Regions from separate parts of the Homo sapiens genome. Here region 2 is linked to region 1. Evidence: fine-mapped expression QTL. A gene starts in region 1. The other region holds a variant in brackets. All regions are shown on one strand. Distances are between the middles of the regions.

Region 1 (8,552 bases):
ACTTTTTAAAAAAACATTCTGTGTTATTTCTGGAAAATTCCTGAAATTCCTGAAAACTACATACATTTAAAAATGTTAAATATAATGTTCTCATTATTATCTGGTCTTGCAGTCTTATCTAGACTTAAATTTTTTTTCTTCTTTCTTTCAAACTTCACATTGAAGCCCTTTTATCAAGCTCGGCATTTAGGAGACTCAAGGTTGGTATTTAAGACTAGGATGACACCTGTTTTAGATTGAACAGTAATTAATAATAGAAAGGTGAGTTAGGAAGCTCACCAAATGGGGCATGGCTTTGGGCCCAGTCATGGAAATATTGTCCATCTGAGGTCTGAGATTATACTTCCAGGTCCAGACACTGGATGTTTCAATATACCCAGAGATGCTCATTTTCTTGGTTATGTACTTATGTTACTCAAAATCACATGCAATGCAGTTTCAAAGCAGAATGTCAATTTATTTTTGTGATTAGAATGCTTTTGACCCATTTTCAAGGATTCCACTTTTTAGTGTCAAGGAAACTAAGAAGCAGGATGAATAATTACAAGGTTACTTGGTGATCGTTGAAAAATAGAAAGGAAAATAAATTGTCTAAGAGAATGACTAATATTTTAAGTAACTTCTCAGGAGATCACCCCACAACAGAATTCATTTGTCTTTTGCTGGAATTATTTGTGCTTCCCAAATGTCGCTCTGTCTTAAGTTAGAGTTAATGTTCAATGACTGTTTTTTTAAAAACCCAATATTCCTCTGATTAGCAACCCATTAATACACTATTTAAACATATAAATACACACTTGAGAGGTCCAGCTGGCTTTTCTGATAGGCTGGGAGACATTCTGTTGGCATGTACTTATTGAATCAGGCAAAACCTCAAGACTCTAGCTAGAGCCATTCAACTCCGCTTCACTGTGACCATTTTCTTATGTATCCTTCCAGAAATATTATATCTCTATAGATCTTCTTTTCTCCATAAATGATAGCATACTACTAAATACTCTGAGCATTGTTTTTCTTTTTTTGTTAACATTATATATTTGAGATTGTTTTATATTAATGAATGTTAACTTGCCTTATGTATCTTGACAGTTCCAGAGAATTCCATTGTTTGGATGAATAACAATTTAGGTTGTTTTCAATCTTAAATCCTTGTGTATACCTACAAGTATATCAGAGGACGAATTTTTAGAAGTGAAATTGCTTAGTTAATTAGGTCATGCATTTCAAACATGGATAGATATTGTAAAATTTACCATCAGAGAGATTTTACTAGTTAAAGTATATCAAAAATTTGAGGAAGCATTTGTTTTCATACCCCCTCATCAATACCATCTATTATCAAACTGTTTGTTCTGAAAAATGACGTCTTTCATTATGTTCACAACGATGTATATTTCTTTTCTCAGTCAATAAACACTTCATGATGGTCTATGATATACACACTTATGCAATTATGTTACCTGTTTATTATTACTGAAGATATAGTGATAAACAACATATAGCGTTTATATACATGTGGGATAAATAGACACATGACAGTTGCAGTGGTCCAAGTTTAGTACAATGGTGCAATGGGAGCTATGGGAGGTACGTCCATCACAGTCTAGAAAGGGATCATCAACGGAGGCTTCTAGTGGGGAGAAACATGGGGAGAGACATGTAAACTAAAATCCGATGGAGGTGTAGAGTAGTTGGCTTGGCAAATCTTAGGAAAAGGAGAAGCAAAGAAGAGGAGACAGCAGACTCACACGTGCAAAAATGGGAATGGAGAGAGCAGAGAGCGTGTGGGGTTTGCACAAAGAACAGTTCAGAACCTCACTGTCATGACAGTATGAAGGGAAAGCGGGCAGTACTCCACCACCCACCAATGTAGCCCTCAAAATCAGCTGAGTTGTTTGAACTTTACCCTAACGGCAATATGACATAATCAAAAGATTTTTAAGTGGAGGCGTGAAAAATCAGAAGTATTTTGGGGCTCACACTTGAGATTGGATTGGGGAAGATACGGCTAAAAGTAAGTGGGAGTAATGAGGGGGCTGTCCCAGTAATTGGGTTCAGATGACATTTGCTTGATTTTAGGGATGTACGAGATATTCGTGGATCTTGTGTTGAAGCACCTAATACACGATGTCCCTTCTGAAGACGGGTGCATTAAACTGGGGTGAAGCACAAAGGCCACTGAGCAGCCTGGCTTGACTCCTGGCTTTGCCAGTTTGCATTTGCACGTGTCCAAGCCCTTGAGAGGTGCTGTGAAAACATAGAGGTGGATGAGGGAAGTGCTTATACAGCACATACCGTATAAAAAGAGGGCTTCATACTTGCTAGTTGTTTTAATTTTTATTATTACTTTTCCTCGCTGCACATGGAAATGTCTTTACCTTTGTCTTATTATAAGGTACATACGAGGAGAGTTACAGAACATGGGTGTTAGAAGAGATTTGACATATCTGTTCATTTTCCTAATTTTAGTGATGAGAAAATAAAGGGAAAGAAAGCAATTTAGATTTTTGCCAGTATTACAATTCTTTGTTCACGGGCACACCACGCCAGCCTGAAACTGTTCATTGGTCTGGTTCTCTTACCACCTCGTATATGTAGGTTTATAGTTTGGTTACGAACACCACCTTGTCTTAACCATAGATAGTTCCTGTGTTTGCCGACAGCAGCGATTTCTTGTGTGGAAACCCCTAATTTGGGAAACAATCTGTTTTAAACACTTTGTAGCACATCACTCAAACCGCACAGTTTTCGATAATCTTAGAAACAAAAACTGGGGTTGAGGCGGACAGTTAAATTCTGCAGACACCACAAGCTTGGATTCGTTTCAGCAGTCGGTCCTAAGTGGTTTGAAGCCCCTTCCGGGATGCCTCTTCTTATACGAACAACGCAGCGGCGCCAGGCGCCAGGGTCCTCACTTCTGCCTCCTGGATTTCCTCCGCCTTTCTGCTTCACCGAGGGCCCTGTGATCCGATTCCATCGAATTAACCGCTGTTTACCGAGGGTCTGCTGCGCCTAAGGAAGGCACCGGGCGACGAGCAAGGCGGGGACGCAGTTTGGGGACGCAGGGGTCCGGGCCCCAGTCCAGAGACAGGAGGTCGGCGCTTCGACTTGGCACCCGCCGACGAATTCACTCCAAGGTTCCCACTGGCGGAGCTCCTGCTACCTCCCCCCTCCCCTAAATGCAGCTCCCGCTACCTTCCCGCGCCCAGGGGCTGCTGCCTGAGCCCAGCTCTGCTCACTGGAGGGCGGCGGTGGAGAGGGTGCTGGCCCAGCGTCGGCAGCTGGGCTCAGGACCAAGGTGGGCGCCCGCCGGTCCTGGTCCCCCCAGCCTCACGGTGCAGGACCCAGGGCGCGGCCACTCGAGTTCCCCGGACGCTCTCCTTCCTGATGCTCGCTGTCCCTGCCCTGGCGTCCCCAGCCCGGGGTCGCAGCCTGTCCTCCTCTCTCTCCCCCTCCGCCGCAGCCCGTCGCCTCCGGGCAGAGTTCATGTTCAGCTTGGGCTTTCGCTCGGGATTTAGGAAGAGGCCGGCGGGGCTGGAGGGTGCGGGCCGGCGCGGGAGGGCGCGGGAGGCGGGGAGCGGCGGCCTCTGATTGGCCGGGGCGGGGGAGTGAGCGGAGTTTCCCACAATGCCCCGGTGCGGTGCAGCCGCGGATGGATGCTGCGGGAAGGGGCTGCCATTTGCTGCCCCTGCCAGCGGCGCGCGGACCTGCCCGCGCTCCTGCAGCCGCCGCCGCCGCCGCCGCCAGCCCGCCCGGCCCCTGCAGCGGCGCCGCCTGCGCTCCCTCCGCGGCCGCCGGAGCGGGCGCCATGAACCCCAGCTCCTCGGCGGGAGAGGAGAAAGGGGCGACGGGCGGCAGCAGCAGCAGCGGAAGCGGCGCCGGGAGCTGCTGCCTGGGCGCCGAGGGCGGCGCGGACCCGCGGGGCGCAGGGTCAGCCGCGGCGGCGGGGGCCGCTGCCCTGGACGAGCCCGCGGCCGCCGGCCAGAAGGAGAAGGACGAAGCGCTGGAGGAGAAGCTGAGGAACTTAACTTTCCGGAAGCAGGTCTCGTACAGGTAGGTGCGGGGAGCCGGCAGCCGAGACAGGTGCGCCGCGGCGGGAGACCCACTCTTCTACCCAGCAAGGGGCGCTTCCGCGGAGTTGGGCACCTCTCTGTTTCCACGCCTCTCCTTCCCCCTTTCCCCCTCTCCTCCCGGGGATGTCTGTCTTCTCCCCATCCTATCATTCCAGGCTGGAGGGCAGCAACGCCTGCTTTCCCCTGTGGCAGGAGAGAAGCACTGGGTCCCTAAGGTCAGAGCAACAGAAATTTTGTCTGTGTGTGTGTGTGTGTGTGTGTGTGTGTGTGTGTGTGTGTGAGAGAGAGAGAGAGAGAGAGAGAGAGAAAGAGAGAGAGAGAAAGGGTTGCAGACTCAGTGATGCTTAGTTTTCTTAAGAGAAGTCGTCAAAGTTGCCCCTAAGCAGGTGTCATCTTCAACCACCCTTCCCCCACCTTCCAGATTTCGCTGGATGAACCTTTGGCACTAACTTGACAGCTGAGATCACTCCGACAGGCAGAAAAGAATAGCACTACACTGAAGAGAAATCCTTATGGAAGTTGGACCTGCCTCGAAATCCCCCATGAAGGAAGAGTGGGTTTATGTCTGTAGATGCGCCACTGGTTATGGGGGCTCCATGCCTGCGTGCTCCTTGCCTCTCTCCTGGCTGGAGGAGGGTGTGGGGAGCCCGCTGGCAAGCTAGGGGTGAAGGTGAGAGTGGGGACCATATTTGCACCTAAGGATGAGTGTATGTGTAAGACAAGGACAGTGTGGGATCAATGGCCTTTAAATTAGGATAAAAGATAACCCCACATTGTATTAGAATCCAACAACGAGGAATTAGGATTTATTAAGGTCTCTCTCACCCCTCCCTTCCGCAGGCAAGAATAAAGACATTGACAGGTTTGGAGAGTTGTTGACACTAACCCTACTGCTTATCGATGTTAAAGGTCGAGGTGATATGCAAGCATAGGTTTACAAAGATGTACACTTGCTGGAGCTCAGAGGGTTTCTGGAAAAGGGGTCAGTGAAAACATTCTTGTAACCCTACTCTTTCTGAGTTAGTGTTCCCTTCCCAAAAACCATATAAAGTATTAAGCCTGTCACACCATGTGCTGTTATGTAAGCAAACGCAGATGACAGAGGTGTGTGGGTTTGGGAGGGTGTGTTTTATTTATGGGGGCAGGTGTGTGAATAATTGGGATCCCCATAGACATCGCCTGGCCTGGAGGCCACAGTCACTAGGGCATGTGCTCTGTGTCTAAGTGTTGACTTCTGATGACTCCTAAAACGCCTTCCTGGTGAGGTTGTTGCTTCTGCGTTCCTCCCATGCATTTTGTTCGCTGTGCGCTGAGGGAGTTCCCCACCTGAGTTGTTCTCTTAGTTACTCACACAGATCAGGTCCAAATGGATCTTTCTTTTTATACTTTGGTTTCTAAAAATAGACAGATGGTGGGGAGGGGGTAGCTCTAGGGAGGTATGCTAGGACACTGGCAGTTCTACTTCCTAGTTATGATGGCCCGTCTGGCCCCTGGGGGAACAGGGACTACATTCAGCCTAATTTAGGAGCTGTGAGTTGGAAGGGGGTGGTGATTACATGAAGCACAGTGTAGGCTGCTCCTGGCTTATTGGTATTCATCAGAGTCCTCACTGGGTAGGAAGACAAAGCCAGAGTTTGCAAGGGAAATCATTTCAGCTTGCCTCTTGTCAGGGGTCATTCTCTGAGCCTCCTTTTTTAAAATGTATGTTGTGTGGGGTTTTGGCTTTCTGAGTTGCATGCTCACACATGCACGTGTAAGTGTGTACACACACAAGCATAGACATGGACACAGACGCAGCATGTTTCTATAGAAGAATAATAACATTGCGTCTGCTTTACAATCCTTACATAGAGGTGGATTCTACTTCGTGAACATCATTTCCTTTTAAATAAAGCTTTACAGTCTCCAATTCCTGCATCAGTGTCACCTCAGGTGTCTGGTTAAAAGTGCTCACCACCCTAGACTTGCAGAATCAAACTGTCTGTGGGTGAGAATTTTTAACACGCTCCTCAGGCGATGTTTATGCAGACTAATATATGGGGATTGCCACCCTATTTTGCCCCCAAGACTAAACAATTGATCTTTGAACTCATAAACCCTCCCCATCCAAACCAGGCCAGTCAGTCTCAAAGTCAGAGGAAAGATGGTGAAAAGGAGGTGCTTCCATCTGGAGCATGTTTGTGCCTGGGTAACAGGAAATTGTCTCCATTTTGATCACTGTTACTTATTTGTTTTGGAGTAATGGTGAATGGCCTGCCCACTCGTCATGGCGGCCATTGGTGCTGGACTCCTGCAGCAGGGCTGGCTGTTTTACTGTGGGATGGATGAAGGGTGTGTAAAAAAAGAGCAGGTTTGTCAGGAGCTGAGGGTCGGCTCCTTGGTGGGGACCACACCACCTCCCTTCTGGGGGCACCTGAGGACAGTGTCTGGTGGGAGCTTATGGAGAGGAGGCAGGAAGACCTCACAGAATGGAGTCTGAGTGAAAGGACTGAGTTAGGGTATGGAGCATGGCTGCTTGCGTGAGGGGGATCATTTGAGGTGGAGGAGTGGAGATTTGCAGGTAGGCAAAAAATATCTTTTGAAGAACATGTGTATTTTTGGAATGAAACTTGACAGGCAAAAAGAAGGGGGCTTTGGGAGAGAGGGTGTGTGTGTGTGTGTGTGTGTGTGTGTGTGTGTGTGTGTAGGGGGGTCTCATCTGCTCCTTCTGTTGCTAAGGAACATATAAGCTAGGGTTTAAAAATAAATGAGGAGTGGGTGGGCATATGCAGTGACTCCTGTCTTTTTAGGAACCAGAGCCCTTTACAAAAAGCCTTTAAATAACCATTTCTGGAGGCAGATTATTCATTTTGCTTGACTTTTACTTTGTTAAGTAAAATAAACTGCTTTCTGTACTCCTAGATTTCCCCTCATTATCTATTCTGTGTTGGCTTTTTTTGAGAACCATTTTTCCCATGAGAATTTTTTCCTTTATTTCAGAATCTGCACCCCTAGAGCAAATAGTCTCTGTCGACTGTAAAGCTGAAGGTTTGAAAAGGCAGTGCGAGTGAGCTGGTACTTTTCTTTTAAAATTACTACTTCGTTTTTCTTTGCAAATTATGGTGCTGCAACAGATACATATGTGTAAATGACTATATACTGTGTAGGAACTGTTTTTTTTTTTAAACTGCTGTAAGAATTCCCATATAAGTCAGTACAATAAAAAAAAAAAGACTTCAGAAACACATAAGGGAGGGGAAGGAGAAGGTAGCTGATGTTTATTGTCTTCTATGCAACAGGCACTGGGCTAAGCCTTATTGTATATTCTGTCTTAATTAATCTTTGTGACAGTCCTGTGATGTGACTATGACTATTTCCATTTTATTGAAAATGAACTTGAGGCATAGAGCTTGGGCAGGAGGCAGAATTTAAAACACAGATGACTCCAAAGGACTGTCTCTTTAGACCGCATCACGCTGCTTCCCTAAACATTTATTTTAGGCTTGAGCTCTCTGTCCATGTGTGCATATGTGTATGCATGCGTGTGTGCAGTGTGAGTTATCTTCCCCCTCATCTGTAATACACGGCAGGTCATTACATATTATTATTATTATATATTATTGCATACCTTTTTTTGGCTTGTGGCCCTTTGTCTATATAATTTTAGGGAACTCTTCTACTATCTCAGAAATATAAATGAATATAAATTCATGATTGCAAATATATCAGTTTTGCTTCTGAGAACAAAACCACCTACATGCACCTGCTATGAAGATATCCTCGTTAGAGGTTTATATGCCTTAAAAAAAAATTTACACAGGGTTGTGTAGGCGAACCTAGGTCCAATGAAGAGCTGGCCCATCGGTACCTCTTTGGGCAGCACAGAATGAGTGATGAAGTACAATTTTGCTTGTCAGTATGTCTGGGCAGACCATTACTTATGAGATGTTGATGCCTATGATTTAGTTTCTCTGCTCATAAACCATGCTGGTAATACTAAACCTTTCTTAAAGGAAGTTTTTGGTATGAGATAGAAATAGGAGCAAGGAGTATTAAACGCTTTAGTTTGGGCAACCATGTAAAAAATGATCTGTTATTCTTTATAGGTTGATGATTAGAATGTAGTTTTTTTGCGTGTGTTTTGTCCCACAAAGTAAGGTTGTGTTATTACAAGAAAGATATTTGAGGAGTTCGAAGCCACGTAGGATAAAATGGATATTGGTCTTCCTTGCATTGTAATCAATAGTGTATGGGGGAACTTTTCTCCTGAATATCAGTATGTATCCTCTTTTGTAAATCCATTTTATTTTGTTTTTATCCGTGTTTTGCACATCTGTTAGATTTTTAAAGACTGTAGGATCAGATTAAGATCTTGGTTCTAATTTAATTCCTTTCTCAGTAATGACTTACATACTGACTGTTACTTCCTCAGTTAGGATACACACTGGGCAAGATTTCAATTCAACCACTGTCCGGAGTACTTATTCTGCTCTAAGTGAT
Region 2 (8,552 bases), 390 kb after region 1:
TTTGCCACTTGAGGATCTATGAGAAAAGAAAATAGGCATGGAATGAAAACTCTGATATATTCTTCTTAAGTTTTCTTTGAGAAAAGGACTGACTCACCTCTGAGTCAGGTGGGTTAAGAGCAGGCAGGTAAAGGGTCTAGGAGACACTGCTTTTGTTTCTGAATCAGAGTAACCTTTTTCCGGTTCTTAGATTTTGTAGTTCGTAAGAAACCCCCAAATGACTGAAAGAGTTGTACTTTTTCTCAATGTCCCCAAGTCCTAGTCCTGAAAGAACTAAAATGGACTGTCACACAAATAATATCTTGCCACTAGACTAAGACACAGGGGAAACAGTGTAGTGAACCACACCGAGGGTAGATATTCAATCCAGATAATTGTGTCTAGGCAGGTATCTGGTACCCGATCAGCTGCACAAGGCTAATGGGTTTTTATGATTGGCAGAGGATTTCTGTCTTCAAGGAAAGATAATGCTATCAAATGTTTAACTATAATGTGTGAGGTCTGATTTGTGATTTCATTGTGATTACCCTAAGAAATAGGGTAAACAATTCAGTCAATCGTGTATTGAACAAATCAGTATTGGGCACCTTCAGTGACTGAAGTCAGGCACTGAAGATATACAACTAAAGAAGAAATAATTATTGCCCTTGAAGAGCTTATATTTAAAGGGGAAATATTAAACCAATTATTAAAGTTCCTTCTAATAAGTGCTATTATGGATATATGCATAGAGTGTTCTGGAAACAAGAGGAAATATAATTTGCTGCTTTTTTTTTTAGATTTAACTTTTTTGACCCTAGAAATGATGAATATTTAAAGAATTAACGAAAATGTCAGCCTCAAAGAAAAAAAATAGGCTTATTAAGTGTTCTATGTGTATTTTCTTCATTTTTTACATGTGAACAGATAAGTATTTGTCCTTCCTCATTGTGTAAACCAGAAATATCTCTCAAATAATGGAAAACATTCAATGGTAGTTCAACCTCTCCATATGCTATGTGTGCTCAAGGAAATTTGGACAACCGAGAAATTATTTGGAGATACCAAGATACCTAATAATACTTTAAACTGAAAAACTGGCCTTTTTAGTATAGTCTGCAATTGCAATTCTGAATCACTATATCGAGAAGATAAAGCCCGGAGACCTCCTGTGTTCTGAAAACTCAGATGTTCTAAGCTGATTATGGGAGAAACAACATCATTCCCCTCTGGTCCTCAACTATTTTCTTTATTCAGTTTCTTCTGGGAACATTAGGTTATGGCCTGAACCTAATAAAAAGGGTAATTGTGCTTATTGTGAAAGTTTCAGGTTCTCAACAGGAAGACAGACTGTTGGACAGCGATTTTGATTTTGGAAATATTCTTTCAGCTTCACAATCAGATAAGCGGGAGAAAATTAATCTTCTTAGTGGGATGCAGGTTTTGCTGAAATATATCTTAGAGATGAAATCAGTGCTGTCAGGATAAAGATGGCTCCTGGCATCTGTTTCACTGAGATAGTTGGGTCCCGTTTCTACCTACCTTTGACATCCCTGCTTACCTTTGACTGGGCTCAATCTTGCTCACCCCGGATACTCATTCCAGCTGGAAAAATACAGGATAGCTGACATATGTCTTCCTTCTTCTTTTTCTTCTTGACTTACCTTGAGTTTGAAATGACTTGGTGAATTACTCTATTTGGCAAGCACATAATAACACTCTATTCCTATGGGTGTGTGAAATATTTAATAAGAGATTTGCCTTTGTTATTTTTAGAATTGTTCCTCAATCAGTTATGCATATGGAGGCCCTAAACCACTCGGAGGAAATGGATTTAAATTTACCTTTCCAAGTTCAGTTAGTGGAAGAGTTAGAACAGAGTTCCCTGTGTACCAGATCTTATTTTGACTGACATTGAAAGAAAAACAAACAAACTTACTTTAATGTTAAACATCCATTTTATTTGAAATAATCCCAGGAAATTCTCGCCCTTCATTGCCATGAGTTCCAAGTTTTGCCAATGATTAGAGTATGAGGAAATATTAGTGTTAAGTGGCTCTCTTTTTACATTTGTAAAAGCTGGCAGCCATATTTATTCACACTTCAGGAATACTGTGAATGTGAGGCAGTATTGATTGGATCCCTCTTTAAAGCATGTGAGTTCCTTGGATGACCAAACTGTGCATTTCTCCCTCTGTCTCCATAGCACTTTGCACCATACCTAAAATGGTAGGCATCCAACAAGGCAGGCTTTTGGGATGAATAGAAGGATGTTCCATTCATAGAACATCCCTTGATAGAAAAGGTGCTTTGTCAAACCAAAATAAATACGTGTCTATTTATATTGCTATACTAAACCCAGTACTTATCAAATTATAACAAAATAATAGTGATAACAAAATAATATGTAAAATGTTGACCATTTTTGTTAGGCTGTGGGTTCCATTTATATATTTCAAATTTGAATATAAGTATGCTGGATCCAGGGAATTCACAGATCAAAATAATAAAGACACACCTGAATGCCTGACTTGGAGAAATGTTGGTATTTCACAAGCGAGAAAGTAAAAGGTAAGTATGGTCGGTATAGGAAGTTGTAGGCACTGTTGGTGAGCACAGTGGTAGGTAGAGTGGCAAGGAAGAATTGTTTCCCAGGCATTCACCTCCAAAATAAACTGTTGGTCCCCGGCTGCATTCTCCAACTTCCACCAACACTCTTGTTTTCTCAGTGTGTCTGTCTTAGGTGAATAATTTGATTAAACAGATCTAAAGTGTGAAAGAGTGATCATTTTGAAATATTTTCAAAAAAATTCGCTTGCAAATCTCAAGTTGCTGGGATGTGGAGCAGTAATCACTTACCATGTTCAGTGTGGAGTTGAGGAATGTGAGAGGGATGTCATATTATCACTGGAAATGGTGGTGGCTGGGGAGTCATATCGGGCATGGGACTTCTCTGCGGTACTTCTGGGGCCCTCTGAACCCCCTACTCTAAGAAGATCAGAACAAGAGATATCTCCACACCATGCTAGCACTACTTATTTGGAATTCAGGGAGATGGAGACCACATTCCCCGCCCCCCCCCCTTTTTTTTTTAACTTTTCTGGATGATTGTGCCAGGCATCACACATAAGAACAACAATCCTCCAACAGTTTTCTCCAATACTCTGTGAGATGCTGGTCTTACTCCATGACTCCCTTACAAGCTCCTTAAAGGTGGGAATGGAATGTTTTAAGTTAAGTACCTCCCACAGCTCTTGGAATAGAGTTAAGTACATAGCAGTTCTTAATATCTAACACTGGAGTCACTGAATTATTCTCACAGTCTGTCGAGCCCATTTTAATTTCTTGTTTTCAATATTACTATGATTTATCTGCATTCATTATATTTTTTTTCACAGAGCTCCTCGAACTGATCTATAACTGAGAAACTCTCTTGTCCTTAGACACATTAGAGTCAGGAGGAAGCAGACAATGTTTAGATTCTGTTCCCACCCTCTCCTGAGAAGGGTGGGGTGGGAGGAGATGTTGTCAGAAAGCTGCTGGGGTATGTTACAGTTATCTTCAGAGGTGCCAAACCAGCTTCCAACCCCGCCTAGTTTTGTCTCCCATTTTCTAAAACTGGGATCAGAAGTCCTTATTTGGATTTCCTAAAAATAAGTAGCTGTGGCTGAGCCCTTACTCAATTACCACAGGGAGATATTGCATATCCGGGATCACGAGATAAGTGAGGTGCCTTGCTTATAAGCCCCACGTGCTAAGACTAAACGTGGCTCTCATGTGACTTGCCTTCACAATCCAGAGCTCCCTCATGTTTCAACTTATGCTTAAAAAGAAAAAAAAGAAGTCCACATTTACAAAATCCAGATGGATTATGTCTCAACAGAAGCTGTTGGCCGGGGTTCCCAGAGTCACTAGGATAAAGCTGGCAGCTTGGCTTTT[C/T]CTAAAGGGTCCTTCCTCCTGGCTCTCCGGGTATGTCTCCGTTGTCTGGATTTTAGAATAATGTGCCTTTTCTATTTCTTCACCCTTTTTTTTAGAAAGTGGGCTGGCAACTATATTGCAGAGACTGATTTCTAAAGGCAAGCCACCCATCCTTTATTGCTTCACAACTGTGCTGGGTTTAATTATTTCTTTTTTCATTTTGTCTACAGAATGCTAAAATGTGATGGCTACATCGTCAGGATAAATAAGCTTGTGAAGTATTATTTTCTCCAACTTCATCTCTTTATTTTATCTATTTCTTTTCTGTGTCCACTGTCGCCCATTCTTCCTCAATCTCTCACATTTCAAACTGCTTTGCCCTCATTTTGTTGCAGTTCTTAAAAGTTAACAGTAGGTGGCAGTAAAATTTTATACTCGAAAGACATTCAGGCGACTCAGCAAACTGAGGAGGGTATACAGAAAGTATGGAATTGTAAATGCTAAAGGTAAAACAGCGTTTTTTTAAAATTAGTTTTTAGACTTTTTAATTGACTAATTGCATATATTTATTGTGTACAACATGATTTTTTGAAGTACGTATACATTGTTGAATGGCTAAACCTGGCTGATCAATGAATGCATTACATCACACAGTTATTTTTGTGGTGAGGACACTTAATATGCACTCTCTGTGCATTTTTTAAGAATATATTATATCATCATTAACCAAAGTCACCATGTTGTACAATGGATCTCTTGAACTTAGTCTGCTGAACTGTAATTATACGTCCTTTGACCAATATCTCCCCAACCTGAACAGTGCTATTTTCTAAAAGCCAAATATATCTAAATATAGGAATCTATTTAAAAAAAAAAAAAACAAGATATTTCAAGCCCAGCTCACATGGGGGTCATCAAGGCATATATTTGGGTAGGTGAGTCTTAAAGACTGGGAAATTATGATAATAAAGGGAATTGGTAGAAATTTGTATCAAATGAGGAACTCACCAAGCAGCCTTTATTATTTACATGCTGGAAATGATTTCCTTCCCTCCACACAAATGCTCATCTCTGTCTTCTTCCTTTCATTTTGCTCTTTCTGCACCCCTTCCCTCTGTTGGTCATGAATGTTACCTTTGAGGCTGCTTGGCATTCCCTGAATGGGTTTGTGACCACTTGAATAGAGAATGTGTTTGTCTTTCTCTCATTTCAATGCCACTCTGTGTGTTTGCTGTAACTTTCATCTCTCACTCTCATTCTCGCCTGCTCTCTTTTACTGTATGTGCTTTGTTCACTGTTTTAAGAGAAATATTCACAATTAGAAGGACCAAAAGCAAACAAAGAGAGGATTATGTAGTCGATGGAGATTTGCAGTGCTGTGGGATTTCTGGTCCTATTTTACCTAATTAGAGATGCTTTGGGGCTAGAGTGATAATGGTGAAGATGTCACACAGATCCATGGTCTCATTCTTTCTCCCTTGGGTCCTCCAAATGATGTCATAGGCCTGGCAAACTAGTTCTCCAGGATAGGCAATGCACCCTTGAGAGATGCTCAAGGGAAGAAAGCTATTGCACAGAGATGATAATCTGCAGCCATGCTTTCACAGCACAGTAAATCATACCTTTGCTCACTTGATTTGAATGAAGATTCTTGTCTACCAACAGTTTTAGGAAATAGATGGAATTTGTGTAGCATCACCACTTCACGGTAAAACAGAAGAAAAAGATGAGGTTTCTGCAGTTGTGATGCAGACCGTTGAAATGTGCCTGGAGAGAATGCCCAACTGGGAAATCGGTTTTCATTCGGGACTACGTAGGAGTGTAACAGAGGACAAGCATCATGGCTCAAGAAGCAGGGAGGAAAGTGGAACCTGGGGAATGCTGACCAGGCATGAACATTCTTACATGTTCACCATAGGAAAAAGGTGTGAGCACATGATGGGAGGCTGTTCTATCCAGGAAAGACTGGATTCCACCCAACTGTGACAAAGGTAAATGAGAAAGTCCAGGAAACTCTCAGGGCTGTGGTCAGGAGAGGGGAAAAGAAATACAAGTAAATGACTGAAACGACAGAGAAAGAACATTCAGAGCTGACATTAAGAGCTTCTCTTTCCCTTCCTAAGTAGGATGGATCATCACCTGATGTTTATAGAAAGTGGTCTTTTTGCTGTGGTTCTCATCCCCAAAGCTAGACAGTAAAGAGGAAAGACAGGCATGAAAGGGAAATTGAATAAAATACGCATATAGTGAGTTGTTTTCAGTGTGTGGACATACGTGTGCTGCTTTGTTCCCCAACAAGAACTTCACAATAAGGAGTGGTGTACTTATTTGTAGTGTGCTGTGTAGGGTGTAGAAGGAGCACGGTGTCTAGCTTGCCCAGCATTCCCGCTTTGTTTCCTTTTCTTATTGCAGGATGGTAGCCAGAAAATGAAGGGGCCTTGGCTATTTCAGTCAGGCCCGTGAATTGGATGAGTGTCTCCCACCTCTTCTACTCCATCCATAGTCTGTGGTCCTGGGGAATCCCACTGCTGAGTGTTTTCAGAATATGAATCTATGCTCTTGTGCCTATTTAAACTCTGCTGTCACACCTGTCCTGCATGTTTATCTTAAGCCCATCTCTATGTGGTGGCCCCATCCCTTGGCCAACTCCCCACCAGGTGATGGTTTAGCAGTGCTGAGTAGAAGGTATATGTGTTGGGGACACGGAATAGAGATAGACATTCATTTGTAGATGTTTCTTTACAGAAAGTAAGAGTCCCATATAGAGGCATCCCCAATATTTATCTAATCTATCCTCTGTTCTTTAGGAAAGACTAATGGATAATCTATTGACATCCTATCTCCAAAGAAGGAAATGATGTAGCCATTCTGAGGAAGGGCCAAGTAGGAAGGCCATGGGTGCTTTTAAATTAAAGCCATGAGATGATGAAAAAAAATAAATAAAGCAAAATATGCATAGAGTCTAAAAAAATAAAAAGAAAGAAAACTGGACAGTGTTATTGAAATGAAAAGGATATTGTATTAGGATCAGCTTGTAAGTTTTGATCATTTCATGGAGCTTACCAAGAAAATGCACATATCTAAAACCTATTGTAAAGTATATTATACCAGATATAAAGACTGAAATAGTCGTGACACCCATTATTTCATTTCCAGGTTTATTGACTAAAAACGATAAAACATCATAAGAGGTGCAATACTTTATAAAGTCCTTTGCCTTCCCAAATATAATACTCATTTGCTTTTATGTATTGCTCTTTTGCTGGTAGAAAACTGGGCACATTTTTCAGTGCCCTTAAGCCTTGTAATCGATCTACTAGAAAGATAAAAGGCTTTGAAGGAAAATTTGTGGATTGAAGGCAATCTAAAAAAAGTATCTTTGAGTTTCTTAGAGATGCTTGAGTTTAGATAGAGTGCTGTCTGTAATGCAGCAGCCACTAGCCAATATGTGCTGAATGTCTTGTTCCCTGATTTGTGATATCTCTATATATTAATCTAATAAAATGATTCATTCCAAGATATTATAGCTGTGTTTAGTTGGGTAATTTCATATATTCAGACTGCCATGACAACACTCCGTTCCAGAGGAACAAACTTACTTCCTTGGGAACCTGGAGACTTGTCTGAAGCTGACTGCCTCAAACACAGATATCTGTTTTGTCCTGTTTTATTTTTTGTTTGTTTGTTTGTTTTCGAAGTTTGTGACTTTAAAAATTCAAGGGACTTTTGCTTTTGGATACATAATATGACTGTGCTGGTTTCAGTATGAAAATATTTTAATTTTTACCAGTTAAATTACATAATATTCTATCTAAAATAGCATTTTGTTTTCCAAGAGCTTCCCTTTTTTTCCAAGTTTCTCTGTGTATGCTAGTTTGAAAAGTTGTCTTTATTTTAGAGACAATATGGATATTCTCATAAGCAGGGTTAATATTGGGAAGGGTACTTTCACCAGCAAATATTCAGATCAAGATTCATGGAAGAGTAAATCCAAAGTAAAATATATATATATGTGTATATATAAAGATATGTATATAATTAAAAATATGTAACTATATATTATTTTAATTTTTTATTTTTTCGAGACAGAGTTTCGCTCTTGTTGTCCAGGCAGGAGTGCAACGGTGCAATCTTGGCTCACTGCAACCTCTGCCTCCTGGGTTCAACTGATTCTCCTGCCTTAGCCTCCCAAGTAGCTGGGATTATAGGCGCGTGCCACCACGCTTGGCTAATTTTTGTATTTTTTTAAGTAGAGACAGGGTTTCACCATGTTGGCCAGGCTGGTGTCAAACTCCTGATCTCAGGTGATCTGCCCGCCTTGGCCTCCCAAAGTGCTGGGATTACAGGGGTGAGCCACCATGCCCAGCTATTATTCTAGTTCTTTAAAAATAATTTTAAAATTGACATAAAATTATTATGTGTTGTATACAACATGATGTGAAATATATATAACCATTAATTATGTAGCTAATTAACGTATGCATTACCATGCATAGTTATAAATTTTATTGTGAGAGCACTTAGCATCTACTCTCTTAGCATTTTTTAAGAATGCAGTGTATCATCCTTAACTATAGTCAGCATGCTATACCATAAATCTCCTGAACTATTCTTCCTATCTAACTGTAACTTTGTCTACTTTGAAGAGCATGTCT

Alleles and levels. Alleles are on the strand shown, and positions count from the first base shown. SD is a standard deviation of normalised expression in the study named.
In carriers of allele T in region 2, the expression in atrial appendage of the gene that starts at base 3,541 in region 1 tends to be higher than with C alone (small effect, 0.26 SD a copy in GTEx).

What was found. PIP is the estimated chance that this variant, and not a neighbour inherited with it, causes the effect.
Region 2: its variant is fine-mapped to the expression of DGKI in atrial appendage (GTEx, PIP above 0.99).

Annotation. Positions count from the first base shown.
Region 1 is chr7:137,841,963-137,850,514 of GRCh38, reverse strand. It overlaps DGKI (diacylglycerol kinase iota), which reads left to right and starts at 3,541. Exons shown (of 33, transcript NM_001321708.2): 1 at 3,541-4,053. The coding sequence starts at 3,653. RefSeq lists silencers at 2,738-3,032, 3,517-3,566 and an enhancer at 4,201-4,702.
Region 2 is chr7:137,450,150-137,458,701 of GRCh38, reverse strand. The region is part of intron 27 of DGKI (diacylglycerol kinase iota); the gene reads left to right. Among named protein-coding and RNA genes, the nearest start is that of PTN, 110 kb to the right of the region's middle. The variant C/T (reference allele first, on the strand shown) is at 3,919.